Regions from separate parts of the Homo sapiens genome. Here region 1 is linked to region 2. The links come from fine-mapping of genetic effects on gene expression. A gene starts in region 2. The other region holds a variant in brackets. All regions are shown on one strand. Distances are between the middles of the regions. Region 1 overlaps PACS1 (phosphofurin acidic cluster sorting protein 1). Region 2 holds the start of RAB1B (RAB1B, member RAS oncogene family).

Evidence for each region.
Region 1: its variant is fine-mapped to the expression of RAB1B in whole blood (TOPMed, PIP 0.96).

What each region holds. Positions count from the first base shown.
Region 1 is chr11:66,154,746-66,157,654 of GRCh38, reverse strand. The region is part of intron 1 of PACS1 (phosphofurin acidic cluster sorting protein 1); the gene reads right to left. Among named protein-coding and RNA genes, the nearest start is that of PACS1, 86 kb to the right of the region's middle. The variant C/T (reference allele first, on the strand shown) is at 1,163.
Region 2 is chr11:66,267,578-66,270,415 of GRCh38, reverse strand. RAB1B (RAB1B, member RAS oncogene family) reads right to left here and starts at 1,777. Exons shown (of 6, transcript NM_030981.3): 1 at 1,723-1,777. The coding sequence starts at 1,736. KLC2 (kinesin light chain 2) reads right to left here. Exons shown (of 16, transcript NM_001318734.2): 16 at 2,556-2,838. It overlaps KLC2-AS2 (KLC2 antisense RNA 2), which reads left to right and starts at 2,005. Exons shown (of 3, transcript NR_186342.1): 1 at 2,005-2,117; 2 at 2,208-2,361; 3 at 2,585-2,838. RefSeq lists enhancers at 677-1,558, 1,719-2,048, 2,169-2,218, 2,519-2,568 and a silencer at 2,679-2,838.

The DNA of each region.
Region 1 (2,909 bases), 110 kb after region 2:
ATATGCAGACTTCAACTTGATCTACTATTTTGGGTAAGAAACCTGCCTCCCACCCTCATTTATAACAGGGTTTCCCCAGGTTAGACTTTGACACACATATTCTTTGGGGATGGGGATCTGGGGTGCTAACTCTTCCACATTCAGACTTTCAACTCATTTTCCTGTTTTCAGCCCCAGTGTATATCCTATATTCACAGGTACCTAAAACTTATCTCAGAACATGGCCCACATGTGGCTGAAAACAGGATTGCTTCCTGTTAGCTTCCTCCACTGCAAATACTTAGTGGAGCAGATGAAGTTGAAACCTAAATGACTCATCATATATGCACCTACATTTCAGTTTTCAAAATTTTGTAGGGAAAAATTCTGGCCCACTGTGATCTCCTCTCCCAATCTCTTCATCCTTATAGATTTGTAACTTTTTTAAAAGAAAATTCCTTTACTGTCATTTTAGTGGGGTTGGGGAGGGAGGAAATATAATCCATCTCATTTCTCCATCTTTTCTAAAAGTCTCTCCTGACCCTGAAGACATCTGTTCATTTGTCATTGGTCACAACTTGGTAACATGTACCATCCTACGTAATTGAGGGGAGACAAAATTATCAAACAAAGCAAAATGACCAGAACTTGGGGTCAGAACATTCTTCCTAGAAGAACATCACCACAAAGAAGAATCTGATACCTGAACAAGAAAGAGGTTCTGGGAAAGAGAATAAACAACCTAAAGTATAATCATCACCTAGAGAGTGAATACTGAATAGCTGCCTTTATTAAACCATGGAAAGATTTTTTTTTTTTTTTCGAGACAGAGTCTCGCTCTGTCGCCCAGGCTGGAGTGCAGTGGCGCCATCTCGGCTCGCGCAAGCTCCGCCTCCCAGGTTCACGCCATTCTCCTGCCTCAGCCTCCCGAGTAGCTGGGATTATAGGTGCCCACCACCACGCCCGGGTAATTTTTTGTATCTTTAGTAGAAACAGGGTTTCACCGTGTTAGCCAGGATGGTCTCGATCTCCTGACCTTGTGATCCGCCTGCCTCGGCCTCCCAAAGTGCTGGGATTACAGACATGAGCCACCATGCCCAGCCGGAAAGATTTTTTTAAAAAACAACTTTAGGCCAGGTGCAGTGGCTCACGCCTGCAATCCCAGCACTTTGAGAGGCCAAGA[C/T]GGATGGATCACTTAAGGCCAGGAGTTCAAGACCAGCCTGGCCAACATGGTGAAACCCCATCTCTACTAAAAACACAAAAATTAGCTGGGCGTGGTGGTACATGCCTGTAATCCCAGCTGCGGAAAGCAGGAGAATGGCTTGAACCCGGGGGGCAGAAGTTGCAGTGAGCCGAGATCACACACCACTGCACTCCAGCCTGGGGGACAGAGCAAGACTCTGTCTTAAAAAAAAAAAAACTATATATATATATATATATATATATATATATATATATATATATATATATAATTTAAAAAATGAAACAACTTTGTGGAGGATATAATTTACAGACAATAAACAAAATTTACATACAATATACCAGTGGAAACACCCCCACAATAAAGACACTGAGCATTTCCATCACCCTTGAAAGTTCCTTTACGCCTCTTTGCAATCTTCCCTCCACCCAAGCCCCAGGCAATCACTCCTTTATTTTATTGTCACTATCCACTGGTTTGCACCTTTGAGACTTTTATATAAATATACAGCATGTACACCTCTGGGTCTGGCTTCTTTCACAAAGCATGTTTTTGAGCCAGATCCATGCTGTCTAGAGCTCCTTTTTCCTGCTCAGAGCTCTCATTGGACTGGGACAGCACAGTTTGTTCATCCATTCACCTGATGAGCCCCCGGATTGTTTCCAGCCTTTGGCCGTCATGAATACGCTGCTACAAACACTCATGGAGAAGCCTCTGCGTTTTCATTCCTCTCAGATAAATATCTAGGCATGGAATTACTGTATCCTTGAGTAACTGTTGTTTAACTTTAAAACAAACTACTGTTCTCTAAACTAGTACTACTTTACATTCTCAACAGAGGATATGAAAGTTCTGCTTGTGCCACATCCTTGCCAACACCTGGAGCTATCAGTCTCTTAAATTTTAGCCATACGTAGAGGGTAAAGAGCGGTAGTTCATTATGGCTGGAAATTGCTTTTCTCTGATAATTAATAATATGAAGTATTTTATGTAGCTCCTGGCCACTGTTTTATCTTACCTTGTGAAGTATACTTTGAAATCTTTTGTGCATTTAAAAAATGGGGTTACTATTACTGAACTGTAAGAGTTCTTTACAATCCTTTGTCAGATTTATCTATTGTAAACATTTTATCCCATATTGTACATTTTCTTCATTCCTTTCTGAAAAAGCACATTTCAATTTTGATAAAGTCCAATTTAGCATTCATTTATTTTATGGTATGTGCTTTTTGTATCCTACTTAGAAAATCTTTTCACACCCAGAAGTCACATGAACGTTTTCCCCTATAATTTTTCCAGAAGCTTTATAGTTTTAACTCGTTTAGGACTTTGGTCCGTTTTGAGCTTTCTGGGCAGTGTATAAGGTATGGGTTAATGTTTGTTTTCTTCCACACAGATATTTAGTTGCTGCTGTACCATGTGTTGAAAAGATGTTCCTTTCCCCATTGAATTGCCTCAGGACCTTTGCTGCAAATCAATTGTCTATTTACGTGTGGATCTCTTTCTGGATTCCATCTTCTCATTTATGTACATGTCTATTATTTTGCCAGTATCACAGCCTTGCGGTGCTGTAGAAGTCAGTCCTCAATTTTTGCTGGCTTTGCCAGTTTTAAGTACTTTGCATTCCATACACATTCTAGAACCAGCTTTTCAATTTCTACAACAAAAATACGCAGAAATTTTGATTGAGAATGTATTGAATCTACAGATGAATTTGTAGAAAATTGAT
Region 2 (2,838 bases):
AGTAGAGACGGGATTTCACCATGTTGGCCAGGATGGTCTCGATCTCCTGACCTCGTGATCCACCCACCTCGGCCTCCCAAAGTCCTGGGATTACAGGCCTGAGCCACCGCACCCGGCTAACCCCATCTCTTTGGAGACAACAACAACAACAACAACAACAACAACAACAACAACAACAACAAAAACCTGTTATGAAGTCACCAGGAAGAGGTGGTCAAGTTGCAGTGAAAATTGCACTTAAGGCTGGGTGCAGTGACTGACACCTGTAATCCCAACACTTTGGAAGCCCGAGGCACGAGAATCATTTAAGCCCAGGAGTTTGAGATCAGGCTGGGAAACATATCGAGACCCTGTCTTTACAAAAAATTAAAAAATGTGCCAGGTGTGGTGGTGTGCCTCTGTATTCCCAGCTACTCAGGAGGACAAGGCAGGAGGACTGCTTCAGCCCAAGAGTTGGAGACTGCAGTGAGCCATCGTCACGCCACTGCACTCCAGCCTGGGTGACAGAGAGAGACCCTGTCTCAAAATAAAAAAAAAAAAAGGCAAAAGGTAATCACATTTAATATACTTGAGTTCCAACCTGTGGACGGACCCTGTGTGAAGTACTTTAAATGCATCATCTCATTTAATCTTCACAACAGTTCAATGAAGTCAGTTTTGTCATTGTCAACTAATGAGGAAACCAGAGGCCAGAGAAGGGAAGTGACTTGCCCTAACTTACACAGTTTATCGCTTTAAGACTCAAACCAGGTTTCTCAGACTCCAAAGTCCCTTCGAGAGCCTGCTGGTTCCCTTCTCTGTTCCCCTCCCAATCCAGCTCAGAGCTTCACCCTTCCCCAAGGAAATCTGAGACCTGGATGTGGAGTAGAAAAAGGAAGTGGCAGAAAAGGAAGAAGATAACTGATACTTGGGGAAAACTATTAGTCCTGGGCATGAGATGTGGGCCACCTACCCGCAGGGGGAGTGACCAAGAGTGAGGAGAGTTTGAGGACCAGAGAATCCCACAGGAAGGGGGAGAGCAAATTCCATATTCATCTAAACTTCACAGGCAGTGTGACAGCCAAGGGAAGGGGTGTGACGGTGGCGTTGGGGGCCTGAGCAAAAGCGAGGAGAGGGCGGGAAAGGACGGACCGGCGGGAGCGACAGGACAGCGCGACCCAGGCAAAGGGTAGGAGGCAGCCCCGGAAGAGAGGACCTGCGGGAGACGCGACCCAAGCGGCGCTTCGGGGCCTCCCGCGTAGTTGGCTAGCTTCTGGGCCGGCCCCAGGAGCCGGGCTTCAGGAGAAAGAGAAGGGTAGAGGGATTCACTGCCCGACCTAAAGGGCCCAAGCCTGAACCCGAGACCAGAAACTATCAAGACGGGCTCCAAAACTCCGGGACAGTTGTCAAGCAGCAGGTGGGGAAACTGAGGCCTGAAGTGACCGGGACTGCGGGGTCATCTGACCGATAAGGCCTGGTAGGACCGATGTCTCGAGCTCCAAGAGCTGCCCCTGGGGGTCGCCACGTCTGGGCCCCGGGTGCGAGGGCTCGGGGTTTTGAGCCGGGGTCCTGGGGCCCCTGGGGGGAGGGGCAGAACCCGGATGTGGGGGGGGGTCAGCGGAAGAGGGACCCGGATGTGGGGGCGCCGCACAGTCCTGACCCGGGCCAGACAACCCCGGTAAGCGTACAGCCCTGTATTCGGGATCGAGGCTGCGCTGGACGGCGCGGGCGGGGCTCACTCACTATTCGGGGTTCATGGCGGCGGCGGCGGCCCGCTCGGTCGCTCCCAGTCGACTCTGCTCCGCCTCCCGTTCCAAGATGGTGGCCGCTCCGCCCCAGAGGCCCCGCCCGCGACGCGCAGGCGCAAACGTCTTCTTCTCAGGCCTCGCCGCGCTGATTCCCGGAACTTGTAGTCTAAGACGTTCTCCAACTCAGCCCCGCTGCGCAGGCGTAGTCGGGGAGCCCGCGCCTCCGCGCCCACTCCCATCACTGCTGGCGCATTGCCTTCTGGGGCTTGTAGTTTGCACTCCGGACGCACTCAGGCTTGAGGACAGTGCTGGAAAGCCTGACCGCGACTCGGTGTTTAGAAAGCTCAATTTAGGGCTGGGCTTGGCACGTTTCACATCTGTCTGACGGAGGTAGTCATCCTTGCCCTCCCAATACCCACGTTGTGAACATTAAATGAGAATGTGGGTTCTAGTAAGACTAATAAAAGTACATTTGTCCAGGGTTCTTCGTGTACTGGGCAGTCCTAACTCGCAGCCGCGCGTCATCACCCGCATTTCATAGATGAAAAAACTGAGTCTCGGGAAACTCACTCAAGGTCAAAAACTTTGTGAGGAGCAGAGCTCATAAGAGCCCGCGGTCTCCAGAACCCCACAAGTGAGTGTTTTAGGGAAAGCCTGACTTGTGGGCCCCTCACGCAATTCCGGGGTGGGGCACAATATCTGGGCCCAGCTGCGCGGACAGCGGTTGAGCGAGACACACTGTCCCCCACTCACGCACGACCCTTCCCGGCTCCACCCCAGTCTAGAGACGCTGGGGGCCCCCGACCTCCGTCTCAAAACAAGCCCAGCTCAGATTTAAACCGTCTTTATTTCTACAGCAACATCTGAAAATATGAGAGCAGCCGCCTCACCCGCAACAGGGGGAGCCCCTCCTGCCACCAGGGGACCGTCGCCGCCCCTCGCGAGAAGCTGCAGGCGTGGGGGGAGGCGAGGCAGGATGGCTCGGTGGGCGGTGCCCGGGGCGGGGTCGGCCGTGCCTGGGCGGGGCCGGGTGGGAGGGGCAGTGCATAAGGCCGGGATGCGGGGCAGGGCCCGGCGGTGGGAGGACGGACTAAGGGGAGGTCCCCGTCCT